Linked DNA regions of Homo sapiens. The protein of the gene in region 1 purifies or fractionates together with the protein of each later gene. This does not show direct contact. Each region holds a gene or a part of one and is shown in the gene's direction. Other genes may lie near its edges.

Region 1 (7,345 bases):
TGTTTTAAATGTTGACATGTTTTTTTTTCAAATAATTATTATCAGCCATGTTTATGTATGTATTTCTTTTTCTTTCTTTCTTTTTTTTTTAAGCGATCAAGTCTTGCTGTGTCACCCAGGCTGGAGTGCAGTGGTGCAGTGGCGTGATCTTGGCTCACTGCAACCTCCCTCTCCCAGGTTCTAGCAATTCTGCTGCCTCAGCCTCCTGAGTAGCTGGGACTACAGGCACATGCCACCACTAATTTCTTGTATTTTAGTAGATACGGGTTTTCACCGTGTTGCCCCGGCTGGTCTCGAACTCCTGAGCTCAGGCAATCCTCCTGCCTTGGCCTCCCAAAATGCTGGGATTACAGGCATGGGCCACCGTGCCTGGCTTATGTATGTATTTCTTAATGATTTATGATGAATAAGATGAAAAGAAAAAGTACAGTTGCATTTCTTCTCAATATGATTATATATTTATGTGTAATTGCAATTTAAAACAGTATTAAAAACAATACAGTTCAGTGTTAATTTTTTTCTTAGATTTAACTTATTATTTTTAACTATATGTTTTGTGAAACATTTAAAACTGAAAAGATAAATCAATAATACTAAGATGGTCACTTAGATTGTCTGGTTGCTTTTATTCAGTTAATATAAGATGCTGTGATATTAATAAACCGTTAATACTAGGATTTGTAATTAACCTCAACGATATTCACATTTGACCATGTTTGTAATCAGCCACTGTCAAGATCCCTCTAATTTTAATATTCTATGAGCTCATAGTGTTATACTGCTAAAGGGTTCACATTTAGTCTAAAACCAGAAGGGAACTAATAAAGCATTAACAACACAGAGGGGAAAATGATAAAGTACTCAAGATAGGCATATCAATACATTTTCATCCAGTATACATATCTACATGGAAGGCCCAAATCATAAGATCGCTCTTAAGCATGGAATCAGAGCAAGGGGAGTTAGTAGGACAATCTTGATAACTTCTGTCATTAAGCCACTTCACCTTGTTTCATCCAATTCCTGAAAGGAAAGACCTACTGCACATCCCAGAGAATGATATCCAGAGGCAGGGACTGCTTCTGTTTACAGTGTGGGAGCCTTACCATAAATTTTGGACATTCTCTTTCTCCCATTCTCCACCCTTTAAAAACATAGCAAATAAAATGTACTATAAGAAGAGTAAAGTATCAATTACCTTCTGAAATTTAAGATGGTATATTTTGACTGTGTTCATTAGAGGCAGATTTAACCTAGATTGACCAAACAATTAATTTTAAAATGGACGTTTTTCCATAGAATTATCAGGGATGAAAACTAACAATTTTTCTTTCCTATTTTTGTTTTTTGGTTTTTGTTGCAAACCGAAGCCCCTTCCATCACTGCAGCATAAAGAATGTAAGGGAACAGGAAATTGAAACTTTCAGTAAGAGCAAGATGTATTTAAGATGAAGCAATAGTAATTTTGCTAATCTTTAACCAAAATTCTCTCTCTAACACTGTGAGAGTGGAGATTTCTCCTTAGTATGAATTTAAGTGCACGATGATTATGCTACTCTGATTTTGATAGTATAGCATGGATTTATTAAGTCACAGCTGCAAAATAGTCTTAAGCCATGATTGTATGTAATCACATCCCATCAAAACAAAATTTTCTGGTTGTGTAAATTACTTCGTATTCCATAGATAAAATGGTGATCAAAATAGTTACCTACTTTGAGTCCATTTTTGTAGAAAGCAAGCCCAGGAAGATTACATACCATGCTTAATTTGAATACCTCCAAAATCTAGGTTTTCAGAGCAGCATTAATCTTCTAAGCCTCACGAATATCACAGAATTTTGAATTTTGATCTCTTAAAATTGCTATGCAATAATTTAACCTGATGGAGATACACTGTAGTTATTAAAAGACAGAAAATGCAAAGTTTAGGGAAGACTTCTGGCTAAGAGAGCCGAGTTCAGATCCTTAAGTGGCAGTTCACTTATTAGCTATGTGACTTTGGGACAGTTACTAATTCTTTATGGGATATGGTTTCCTCAATATGTAAACTATATATAACAGTGCAGCTGCTTTTGTAAAGATTTTAATAATGGGGCATATAGCAGACATTTTAAATGTTAGCTCCTACTTCTACTCTTTCCCCATGTTTTAGGCCAATCTAGAATTTATTTTTATTTTTAATTCTTATTTTTTTGAGACAAGGTCTGGCTCTATGGCACAGCTGGAGTACTCATTGCAACCTCACCCTCCCAGGTTGTAAGCGACCCTCCCACCTCAGCCTCCCAAGTATCTGGAACTACAGGCGTGCACCACCATGCCAGGCTAAGTTTTGCATTTTTGGTAGAGACAGGGTTTTGTCGTGTTGCCCAGGCTGGTCTCAAACTCCTGGACTCAAGGCACCCACCTTGGCCTCCCAAAGTACTGGGATTACAGGCCTGCACCTCTGCGCCCGGCTGGCCAGTCTAGAGTTTTCTCGATTGTGAGGAAACAGGTAACAGAATGTACCTCTGTCCAAAGTAAGATACATATTTTATATCTGTCTCTCAACCCAGTAAACACAGCATATATAATTGAAACAAAAGTTTCACAAAATAGTATTTATCATATTATGTGCCATGTACTATGTATTATTACTGTCTGTTTCCTATTAAAACATAAGCACCATAAGGGTAGGGGTATTTGCCAGTCTTTGTTCACTTGTGTACCCCCAGAACTTAGAACAATGTTTGGCACCTAGGACACAAGAATTTTTTGTGTCTGTGTTAAGTGAAAGAATGAATGACTAAATTGTACCTACCATGACACAATGGTGTTAAGCTCTTCGAAGTGTTTTTCTTATTTATTCCACAGTTAGACATGTATTATTATTATTATTATTATTATTAAGAGACAGAGTTTCACTCTTTCACCCAGACTGGATTGAAGTGGCACAATCTCGGTTCACTGTACCCTCCACCTTCCGAGTTCAAATGATTCTCCTGCCTCAGCCTCCCAAGTAGCTGGGATTACAGGCCTGCACCACCACACCTGGCTAATTTTTGTATTTTTAGTAAAGACAGTGTTTCACCATGTTGGCCAGGCTAATCTTGAACTCCTGACCTCAGGTAATCCACCCGCCTCAGCCTCCCAAAGTGCTAGGATTACAGGCGTGAGCCACCGCGCCTGGCCCGGTAGAAATTATTTACATGATTGTCATCACTGTATATCTTACATATGCAATATACAGCAGAGAGACAATTTCTGGTCCTTCAGTTTCGGAGAAGGAAAAGCAAAGCAGTGGTTATGCTGTGATGTTCATCCTGGTGGTGATGGGGGTGGGGTGGGGTGGATTTCTTTTTCTAAGGAGGACTGAGGCAGGAAAATAGGGTCTGGAGGCAGGAAACATAAGGCCTATTCACACTTCAGCTGTAACAGGAAATATCCTCTCCATAGGGCGTAGGCCATAAATGACTTTGTAACTTTACTTCATCTTCTCCCTTTACATAGGGCATACCCAAAGTAACCAATGGAATCCTCTAGGGGGTATTTAAACTCCCCAAAATTCTGTAACCGGGCCTTTGAGCCCCTATGCTCGCCCGTTCCCACACTGTGGAGTGTACTTTCATTTTCAATAAACCCCTTCATTCCTTCCTTGCTTTGTTTGTGCGTTTTCTTCAATTCTTTCTTCAAGATGCCAAGAACCTGGACACCTTCTACCAGTAACAGGATGACAGGCAAGAGTCTTATCAAGATGCTCATGAACCAAAGTATACCTCTGACGTCTTGATTCTTGGAGTCCAAGCCTAGACTGCTTTGGTAAGCAGCAAAGGAAGAAAACGCAAGATAGTTTCCTGAACAATCTCCTGATGCAACTGTTTACAGGTTTCATGTCAGCACCCAAGGGGAGCTTATGGCCAGAGACTCCCACAGTCTCTGTGTGTTCCCAGTGCTTGGGCTCAAGGGAGGCGCGCTGCGGGCTGAAGGCTCAGGTCAGAACCGCAGGGGCTTGGGCGGAGGCGGACTCCGGTCGAAGGCTGTGGGGTGAGAACTCTCGCCCCCTCTACTCGGCCGCCGCCGGGTGGCACGCCCACGCCGCGCCTTCCGGTTGGTCCTTGAGGCGACGGGTGAGGCACAGCTGAGCGCCAAAGCCACAGGCTGGGGCGCTAACGCCCCCGCTCAGCGCTCTGCGCTCCAGACAGCTGCGAGCTGGAGTAGGAAGGTTCAGGCGGTGGCGGAGAGTGCGCTGGAGGCTGGAGGGCCAGGAGGCGGGAAGCTTCCCGCACGGGGGCGCTGTCACCTGCCTGTGGGAGGAGCCAGAGAGGGACCTGGCTCTGCTGCTCTGAAGCACCGGAGTCGGGAGAACCCATCCAGACATGAAGAGCGCCAAAGGTATTGAGAACTTGGCTTTTGTCCCCTCCAGCCCAGACATCCTGCGCCGCTTGTCTGCGTCGCCCTCCCAAATCGAAGTCTCTGCCTTGTCCTCTGACCCCCAAAGAGAGAATTCTCAGCCACAGGAGCTTCAGAAGCCCCAGGAGCCCCAGAAGTCACCAGAGCCATCTCTGCCTTCAGCCCCTCCCAATGTCTCCGAAGAGAAGCTCCGGTCACTGTCGCTGTCCGAGTTTGAGGAGGGGTCTTACGGCTGGAGGAACTTCCATCCTCAATGTCTCCAGCGCTGCAACACACCTGGAGGCTTTCTGCTTCACTACTGCCTCTTGGCCGTCACGCAAGGTAAAGTCCAGCGCCCGCTTGAGGCTCGGGCCAGTGGAGAGCGAGGTGGGCACGGCGAGCCAGCCGGGGGAGAGGGCAGGTGCGCGGGGTCCGTGGGACGGTGGACGCGCCCTGCAAGGTGGCCCCGGGTTTGGAACTTGCTTGCGCTCTCACCAAGGTCAACCTACCGGCCCCCAGCCAGCCTTCCAAAGTTCAGCTTCTCCTTTATCACTACAGTTCAAACTTGCAATACAAGCCTTTTTCTCTTTTGTGTTTTACCTCAGTTTAGCGGATTCAAGACTTACAGGGAAGATTACAAGAACCTTCCTTTGGGAAAGGTATACCCTGGGGAGTTTATTTTACATTATAAAGACAAAAATTTACCTAGGCACTCTTTAAAGGTATTTTACTTTTACATTTGTTTCATTGCCTCAGGGGAAGGAGTAATACGTTTGCAGGTGGGAGTGGGATGCCTTACAAGGAAGAAAGCTATGAAAAATCTATCGTATAAATTAGATACAGACATTCATGTTTTGTGAGTGTATTTAGTTTGAGAGTATGTGGTCACCAGAGGAGCCCAGTGAGTAAATTAGCAAAGGCTCCCGACGTTGTTGAGCCTTAATCTTCATTGTGTTACATTAGTTATCCAGCATCTGTTTTGTTCTAGGATCTCTTTTAGGTTCTCTTGGGAGTTACAGATTCAGTTCAGATTTATACCCTCAGGGGCTTGCAATCTAAGCTCAGTTTGGAGGAGTGATATCCTGGAGGGAGAACAGCTCCCTTGAAAGAAGGCACAGGGAAGGTTAAAGCTGCTTCTGGTGTGTTCAATACAGAGGTTGAAGGAAAATAGGAAGTTAACCTGAGTTGACTTTGAGGAAGGGTGGAGAAGAGGTGGAGAGGAGTCAAGAAGGACATGCCGAAGCTTAGCTGAATTGGAATGTAGATATTTTTTGGTCACTTGAGTCATAGTCCGAGAATATTTTCTGTATAATCAGTCAAGGATTAATTGGAAGAAATACAACCTTAGAAATATAGATTTTAGAGGGTTGGAAACAGCTCATTTTTTAAGTTAATAGAAAACTAAGTCAAAGCCTAAGTATACTTTTTGTTCTTATTCTTCCTCTTCAAGGAACCCAGGGCCCCTTGCTTTGCGCATTAGATGCTAAGTAACCATTTATTGATTGCAAGTCCGCTGCAGCTCTTCTACTGAAGGTAGATTTGTGTTGAAGAATTATTTCCCTGTCCACTTTTCTTGTCCCTACCAAAGTTCCCCTCCATTAATGTCTTGATCATAGTTTTACAAAATTGGTAATTGTGAAGCATCTCAGTGTCAAAGGAATGCGAAGATAAAAAAGTTGGACACAAGTAAAAAATGTCTTATCTTGTGTATTATCTTAAAATTCCTCTGAAATTTCTATATTATTCCAAAATATAACATTTTATATTTAATATAAAATATTGCCTAAAATTGTTATCAAATGTAATTGTCACTCCTAGAAAATTTGTCAGGTTTAGTCTGGAGCAGCATCTACCCAGAGGTCCCCAATTTAAGAAGCTTAATCTGAGATAATAGTGACCCAATAGGCTGGGCATGGTGGCTCACGCCTGTAATCCCAGCACTTTGGGAGGCCGAGGCGGGCGGATCAGTTGAGGTCAGAACTTGGATACCAGCCTGGCCAACATGGTGAAACCCGTCTCTACTAAAAATACAAAAAATTATGGCCGGGCGCCGTGGCTCACGCCTGTAATTGCAGCACTTTGGGAGGCTGAGGCAGGCAGATCAACTGAGGTCAGGAGTTCGAGACCAGCCTGGCCAACACGGTGAAACCCCGTCTCTACCAAAAATACAAAAACTAGTTGGGCATTGTGGCGCATGCCTGCAATCCCAGCTACTTGGAGGGCTGAGGTGGGAAAAACACTTGAACCCAGGAGGCGGAGTTTGAAGTGGACCGAGATCGTGTCATTGCACTCCGGCCTAGGCAACAGAGGGAAACTCTGTCTCAAAACAAAACAAAACACCACAAAAATTAGCCGGGTGCGGTGGCACACGCCTGTAGTCCCAGCTATTCAGGAGGCTGAGGCACGAGAATGGCTGGAACCCGGGAGGTGGAGGTTGCAGTGAGCCGAGATGGCGCCACTGCACTCCAGCCTGGTGACAGAGCGAGGCAAGGTCTCAAAAAAAAGTATAATAATAAAAAGTGTGACCCAATAAATTACTAGTTTACGTTTCAGTTTAAGTTTGAATGCCTGAAAACTTTATTGCCATGTTTCTCAAACATGATCCTTAAGATCATTTCCATGGTATATTTAAATATACATTTAATTGGAAAGAAAAACAAAATTTCTCGAATGAGTTTATTTAACCCAGCATTTCTCAAAGACAAACAGGGATTCTCTAAGTACTTAATTTTCTAATGTGCTTCCTATTGTCATTCATTTACAACAGAGAGATGTAGTATGGAGCGTTTCCTGATTTTTTTGTTTTTGTTTTTTTAAGTAGTGTTCTTGGAACTTGTATAGCATAGAATTCACTTTAAGAGTCATTGGATTAATGTGCTATCCTTCCTGAGGAGTTTACAAATTTTTTTTTCAAAGAGAAGTTTTACCATAAAGACAATTCTTTCTATTAACTAATTTTTAATCAGTATGGCAAGTGA
Region 2 (7,026 bases), on another chromosome or scaffold:
CCTGTGTGGGTTCAGATCCTAGCTCTGCTACCTTTTAGCTTTGTGACCTTGGGCAAGTTACTTTTCTGTGCTTCAGTTTCTTCATTTGTAAAATGGGAATAATGATAGTACCTCCCAATAGAGCTGTGAGGATTTAAAAAGTCAGTCTGTGCAATGTACTTAGACCAATGCTTGGCACATAGTAAGCGCTCAATAAGGGTTGGCTATTTTTCAGAAGTTATGATGTTGAAAATTTTAGATAATTTGAATTTGCTAGTTTACATTTGACTATTTTTTAAGACATTAAGGATTTGTTAACTTCCTAATGAATATAGATTAGAAAAATAATATTAAGGAGTCATAATAATATATATTAATATTTCTGTAGTTTGTGTCTAGAAAATATATTTTTCTTATGTGCAGTGTTTAGCAGTAGCATTAAAAAATGAATGGAAATCCCAGATAAAGTATAACAAAGTTATTGTCTATTATTTATAATGTAATATTATCTGTTTATCATTTTTATTAGGTTAATAATAATGAAATGGTTGCATTACAACGAGATCCTAATAACCCTTATGATAAGAATGCAATTAAAGTAAACAATGTGAATGGAAATCAAGTTGGCCATTTAAAGAAAGAGCTTGCAGGTGCTTTGGCCTATATCATGGACAACAAATTGGCACAAATTGAAGGGTAATGTACTTTCAGAATTTAGTTTTAATAATTGTGAATTATAGTCATCTTTGAACTTGTTAGGGCTTCTTGTTAGAGCCTATAAAGGTATGCTAACAATTTCTATCACTGTACTTTTGGTACGTGTTAAATAAATGTTTTATTTCTCCTTTTACATACTTCTACTACCCCAGCCATCAAACAATTGTCCTCTCATTTTCCTATGGAATTATTACCATGGAGAAAATAGACCTTGGTTCAAATATTAGGAAGTACATTCCATTTCTCCAAACCTTTTGGTACCTAGGTTTAGGAATTTGGAAGTGTTTATTTGTTTATTTATTTATTTATTTATTTTGAGACGAAGTCTCACTCTGTTGCCCAGGCTGCAGTGCAGTTGTGTGATCTCGGCTGACTGCAACCTCCGCCTCCAGGGTTCAAGCAACTCTCCCTGCCTTAGCCTCCTGAGTAGCTACAGGTGCCTGCCACCATGCCCAATTAATTTTTGTATTTTTTAGTAGAGACAGAGATTTGCCATGTTGGCCAGGCTGTCTCGAACTCCTGACCTCAGGTGATCTGCCCGCCTCGGCCTCCCAAAATGCTGGGATTACAGGCGTGAGCCACCGTGCCCAGCCTGGAAGTGTTTGTTTATATCAGAGGTTATAAACTGGTATTCTGTGATATGATGTAGGTGAATTTCATTTTGCCCTGCAGTGTTTTAGACATTTTTTCGTTCAGTACTAATTATTGAAATAGCTAAGTCCGCATTTTATACATATTAATTTATTTTCTTAAATACAAAAAACTTATTTTTCTCTTGACAAGTGGGAAATCTGGCAATGCAGGATGAGTTGTCACTTCCATATGACAATAGTTGACTGGAACTCTCCCTTTAGCTAGGGCATATGCTCTCCCAGTTTTATCACCTGTTTCTTTTTTCTTTTTCTAAACTCTTTCAATCTTTCAGTTACCTTTTCTCTTTTAGGCATTTGTACTTGTGATCTCAATTTAAGTATCTGGAATATTTAGGATCTTGATATTCTAATTCTAATTTTTAGGATATTCATATAATCCTAGGTGAGTTTGAAGAGAAAATAAATGCTCATAATGTCTCACTTTGTTTTCTCCTTTTTCAGTTTATCAGGTTTTTCAGTTATTGAGAATAACTTAGTGAATCACAAGTTCTTGCATTTCCCATTTTCCAAGCAGAATGAGTTACTACCCTCAGTGGTTCCGTTAGCCAAACTCTACCCTTTGATTTAACTTATTTTACTTATATTACAATCTTGTTTACAGGCCATCCTTGCATTTTTAAAACTGCTTTATTCCATTTTCTCAATTTTTTCTGGCACTCTGTTTCTAAAAATCACCCTTCTGATTGTTTATGGTTCTATTTCTTTTCCTTTTTTTCTTTCAAGTCTGCCCAACTAGTTCCTTATTACTTTACTTCAATGTAAAATGTAAATGATACACTTAAAATATTGAACTAATTCTTAGTGGGGATAAAAAGTAATGCTTCTGATTTCCCTTTCTTTTTCTCCCAAATATAATAGGGTAGTTCCTTTTGGTGCAAACAATGCTTTTACCATGCCTCTGCATATGACTTTTTGGGGAAAAGAAGAAAATAGAAAAGCGGTTTCAGATCAGTTGAAGAAACATGGATTTAAATTGGGTCCTGCACCAAAAAGTAAGTTTAGGGTTTCACTTAATATTATTCTGATATTGTAAGATGCAGGGATTATGAAACATTTATTCTCTCTTGGAGTTTGTTGGCTAATTTGTGCTCAAGGCTCCAAGGTACAACTTTTTTTCAGGAGTCTTTTTGAGGAAATCTCTGATTTTTCCTTTTGCCTCTATTGAAATAGATTCACACATAAAAATATACACAGTAAGAGTGAGGGGATATTAAAAAAATTAAAGAAAAAGTATATATGCAATGAAGTCTCATATATACCCTCCCCTAATTTTCCCTAATGGTAACATCTGGAAACCCCTGACTTTAAACATTCTTTTTGATAAATTTTAGGCAAAAATAATCTTCTGATAGCGAATGAAAAGGATTGCTTGGCAAGAGTTTGTTCAAATAATGTGGAATTACTTGTTTTTTTAGTGATTTAGTATTTAGCTTTTAAAATACCTCTAAAATACAAGGCTTTTAATGCAGTTTGTTATGCACGTTTTATTTATTTATTTGTGTATATATTTTGAGACAGAGTCTTGCTCTGTCACCCAGGCTAGAGTACAGTGGCCACGATCAGTGGCTGAGTGCAACCTTGACCTCCTGGGCTCCAGCAGTCCTTCCACCTGAGCCTCCTGAGTAGCTGGGACTACAGGCGCACACCATCACGCTCTGCTAATTTTTGTATTTTTTGTAGAGACAGAATCTCACCATGTTGCCCAGGCTAGTCTCAAACTACTGGACTCAGGCAAACCACCTGCCTTGGCCTCCCAAAGTGCTTGGGTTACAGGCATGAGCCACAGCACCCAGCCCTGTTAATGCATATTTTAAAAGCTACTTAATAAAAGATAAAAACCTACTTTATTTGATGGCTTTATTCTTTTTATTTTGTAAATTATAGCTTTAGGATTCAATTTGGAAAGTGGTTGGGGCTCTGGAAGAGCTGGACCAAGCTATAGTATGCCAGTGCATGCTGCAGTACAGATGACAACTGAACAGGTGTGCTTCTCTTTTATTTTGTAATCTAAAAGTGAATTTTAAATGTTGCAGGTTTGTATTTAAAAGAACAGGATGAATATGTACGTGTGGGTATTTGTGGTCTTCAAATATATTAAGTTATAATGAAACATGTTATAGAATAAATAGAATATATATATGTTAACATTTTATATAAAAAGTACTGATAAGGAATAAATCCATACGTGAACATTTGTACCCAACATACAAAACACACACGTTCCTGTTTATGCACGGCATATTTTTGTATCTGAAATGTTTTAAATGTTCAAGTAGTAATTTTAAGAAAAAAATTGAAGCTGAGACTTAACTCCTTTCAGTAATTTTGCAAATGCAGTGCTAAAGATTTAACTCCAAATTCTTCACATTGTCTAATTTGTAATTTAGGATGAGTTATGCTGAATTTCTTTGAAAAAAAAGTATATAAAGTAATTAATGCAGATCAATTTAAAAATAACATTAAAACTTTTTTGATGTTTGTATCTACCAGTGTTAGTCCTTTTATCTACTAATTGTAGTTACCATATTTACCCTGCTTATTGTTAGAAGGACTTGAGCTTGTTTCTGGTAGATAAGCCCCCGGTTACTTCTGATTTTTTAGACCTGGCCTGATTTCTTCTGAGCTGCTGCTGTGTTCATGTGTTAATTTTCAAAAATATCTGTATCACATATATGTTGATATAAAATTGGACTAACCTAGTTTAAATAGTCAATTAAGTTAGCATAATAATAAAAGTATCCTATAGTGCATGGCAAGTTCCTTATTGCAGTAATAATAAATGGAATGTCATTGACCTGGTAGGACTGAGAAAATATTTTGAATACAACTGATAGCATCACAGAATTTTAATGGCAGAAGGAACCTTAGAGACAATCTAAATTTAGTTCATCCCTTTCATTTTATAGGAATAAGACATGGGGCCATAAAGGTCAAGTCTTGCTGAAACTTACATATAAGCTTATTTGTGATAAAACTGTGACTGAAACTCGGGACTTAAAATTCTTTTATATTCTTTTACCTCCTAACAACTAAAGCACCTGTTCATTCGCTCTTCAGTGAGTAGTGTAATTCTAGAGTTGATTTATGTGCCTTTTTGGCGTTTGACTAGTTTGTGGTTTTTAAATTTAATTTAATTTCAATTTCTTAATTTTTTGGGACAGGGTCTCACTTTCTTGCCCAGGCTGGAGTGCAGTGGCATAATCATGGTTCACTCTATCCTCTACCTACTAGGCTGAAGTGATCCTCCCATCTCAGCATCCCTAGGAGCCAGAACTACAGGCATGCACCCCCATGCCTGGCTAATTTTTTAAAAATTTTTTTGTAGAGATGGGATCTCTCACTATGTTATCCAGGCTGGTCTCAAACTCCTGAGCTCAAGTGATCCTCCCACCTTGGTCTCCCAAAGTGCTGAGATTATTGGCATGAGCCACCACTCCTGGCCCGTTTGACATTAACGCCAGTTAATTAAATGATTTCAAATCTGACTTAAATGCAAGTATTATTTTAATTAGTTTGTTTTACATTGTTTCTTGTTGCTGTTTATTGTAGCTTAAAACAGAATTTGACAAATTGTTTGAAGATTTAAAAGAAGATGATAAAACCCATGAAATGGAACCAGCTGAGGTATTGAACCAATATTTTTTATTTAAGACTACTCAGAATGTTTAAATATACTTAGAATCTACTTTTTGTTTAATCACAGGATCTGCATGTGAAAAAGGAATGGCTTAATGTATTTCGCTTTATGACTTTTTATTTATAGGCTATTGAAACACCACTGCTTCCACATCAAAAACAAGCTCTAGCTTGGATGGTGTCACGGGAAAATAGCAAAGAACTTCCACCATTCTGGGAACAGCGAAATGACTTATACTATAACACAATAACAAATTTTTCTGAGAAGGACCGACCAGAAAATGTCCATGGAGGAATTTTAGCTGATGATATGGGTTTGGTAATTATTTTTTTCTTTAGTTAATAAAATCTAATTTTGTGATTATGATTTTCTAGAAAGTAATTTTGAAGTAAAAAGAGATAGGAATATGTTGGTACCAGTTTGGGACTAGATCTTACTATCTTTGTAGAACACAGTTTTTCCTGTAGTTTTTAGTTAAAATAGTGGTATAAAGATGTGTTCCTCAGTTTTCTTTTTTTTTTTTTTGAGATGGAGTCTTGCTCTGTCACCCAGGCTGGAGTGCAGTGACGCGATCTTGGCTCACTGCAGCCTCCGCCTCCCAGGTTCAAGCAGTTCTCCTGTCTCAGACTTCCAAATAGCTGGGATTACAGGCATGTGCCACCATGCCCAGCTAATTTTTGTATTTTTAGTAGAGACAGGGTTTTACCACGTTGGCCAGGCTGGTTTTGAACTCCTGACTTCAAGTGATCCGCCCGCCTTGGCCTCCCAAAGTGCTGGGGTTACAGATGTGAGCCACCCTGCCTGGCCATGTTTCTCAATTTTCTTTGCTCTTTGAAATTCAGGGTGACCTGTCTTTCATAGGTTTTCTTTTAAAAAGTAAAGACAAAACAATGTTATGTGAAATTGTATTCCATCACAAATATTGTGTTATGCAGAGTATTAAATAGATACTTATGTGTCCTTACACTAGCAGTTTTTATATTTTTCAGTCTCAGTAACCCTTTCTACTCATAAAAATTACTGATTTCAAAGAGCTTTTGCTTTTGTGTGCTGTTATCAGTAGTTATAGTATTAGGCAGTGGTAGCTAAAGATAGCAGTACAAACTCATTGCTTGTTAACATAAATAGCATATTTTTAAAAGAAAAATAACTATGCCAAAACATTAACATTTTTGTTGCAACAACTGGCATTGTCACATTTTTGCACATCTCTGTGTTTGGCCGAATAGATGGCAGCTGAATTCTCACCTGCTTCTTCATTCAGTCTGTTCTGTTAGGTTGTTTTGGTTGAAGTATATGAAGAAAATTTGTCCTTACGACGGTATGTTGCTGTAAAGAGAGGAGTATTGTAATAGCTTTTTAGATAATTGCAGATTTCTTTGATATACTGCATCAAAATTCAATAAATATTAGTTTATTAAAGGTTAATTGTTGTAATATGGAACGCTAAATCATATCAGTGAGCTTTTTATACCCTGTTTTGTTAAAATCTATTTGTGTATCTTGCTCATTGAATGAATATTTTACCCATGTATGATTTTATAACACCAGGCATTGCTCATTTAGAAAATGTTGGTTCATTGAGTTGGGCAGACCTACTAAATGTTGATGTATTTCATATGCAATATCCAAAACTTACATTCATTAATATTACCACTGATGTTATTAGAAAATCATTTACATTTTGGGAAGGCACTATGTTCATAGTGTCACACACAACTTTTCCAACATTCTAATTTTCTATTGAAAACTCACATTTTATCATTGACAAGCTCAGTTGTTTCCTTTGTAGATGACAGCCTCACTTTGTTCATTTTCTAGAAAGTATCTTTCAGACACTCAGTCGTGATTGATAGTTGTCATTCAAGTAAAAATGGTGTCGCATGAAAAAAGTGACTAGTTGAGCTTATAACTCCCATCTTGAGTGATTTTTCTCTAGCTAACCCTCATAGTTTGATATGCAACAGAAGTAGTTAATATGTAGTTTCCATTTCACTACACAGAATATTAAAAAGATTTGTACTGAAGTAATGAGACTTA

Evidence for each region.
Region 2: the proteins of SLCO4C1 (region 1) and HLTF purify together in Homo sapiens (affinity purification with mass spectrometry; 2 studies listed by BioGRID and IntAct, with this or other methods). This does not show direct contact.

Annotation. Positions count from the first base shown.
Region 1 is NC_000005.10:102,293,272-102,300,616, reverse strand, and holds the start of SLCO4C1 (solute carrier organic anion transporter family member 4C1), read left to right. Parts: upstream 1-4,332; 5' UTR 4,333-4,354; coding exon 4,355-4,709; intron 4,710-4,972; exon of another isoform or gene 4,973-5,089; intron 5,090-5,817; exon of another isoform or gene 5,818-5,900; intron 5,901-7,345. UniProt on the Homo sapiens protein: Mediates the transport of organic anions such as steroids (estrone 3-sulfate, chenodeoxycholate, glycocholate) and thyroid hormones (3,3',5-triiodo-L-thyronine (T3), L-thyroxine (T4)), in the kidney.
Region 2 is NC_000003.12:149,069,530-149,076,555, reverse strand, and holds part of HLTF (helicase-like transcription factor), read left to right. Parts: intron 1-508; coding exon 509-675; intron 676-2,207; coding exon 2,208-2,341; intron 2,342-3,233; coding exon 3,234-3,331; intron 3,332-4,898; coding exon 4,899-4,973; intron 4,974-5,112; coding exon 5,113-5,304; intron 5,305-7,026. UniProt on the Homo sapiens protein: Has both helicase and E3 ubiquitin ligase activities. Possesses intrinsic ATP-dependent nucleosome-remodeling activity; This activity may be required for transcriptional activation or repression of specific target promoters.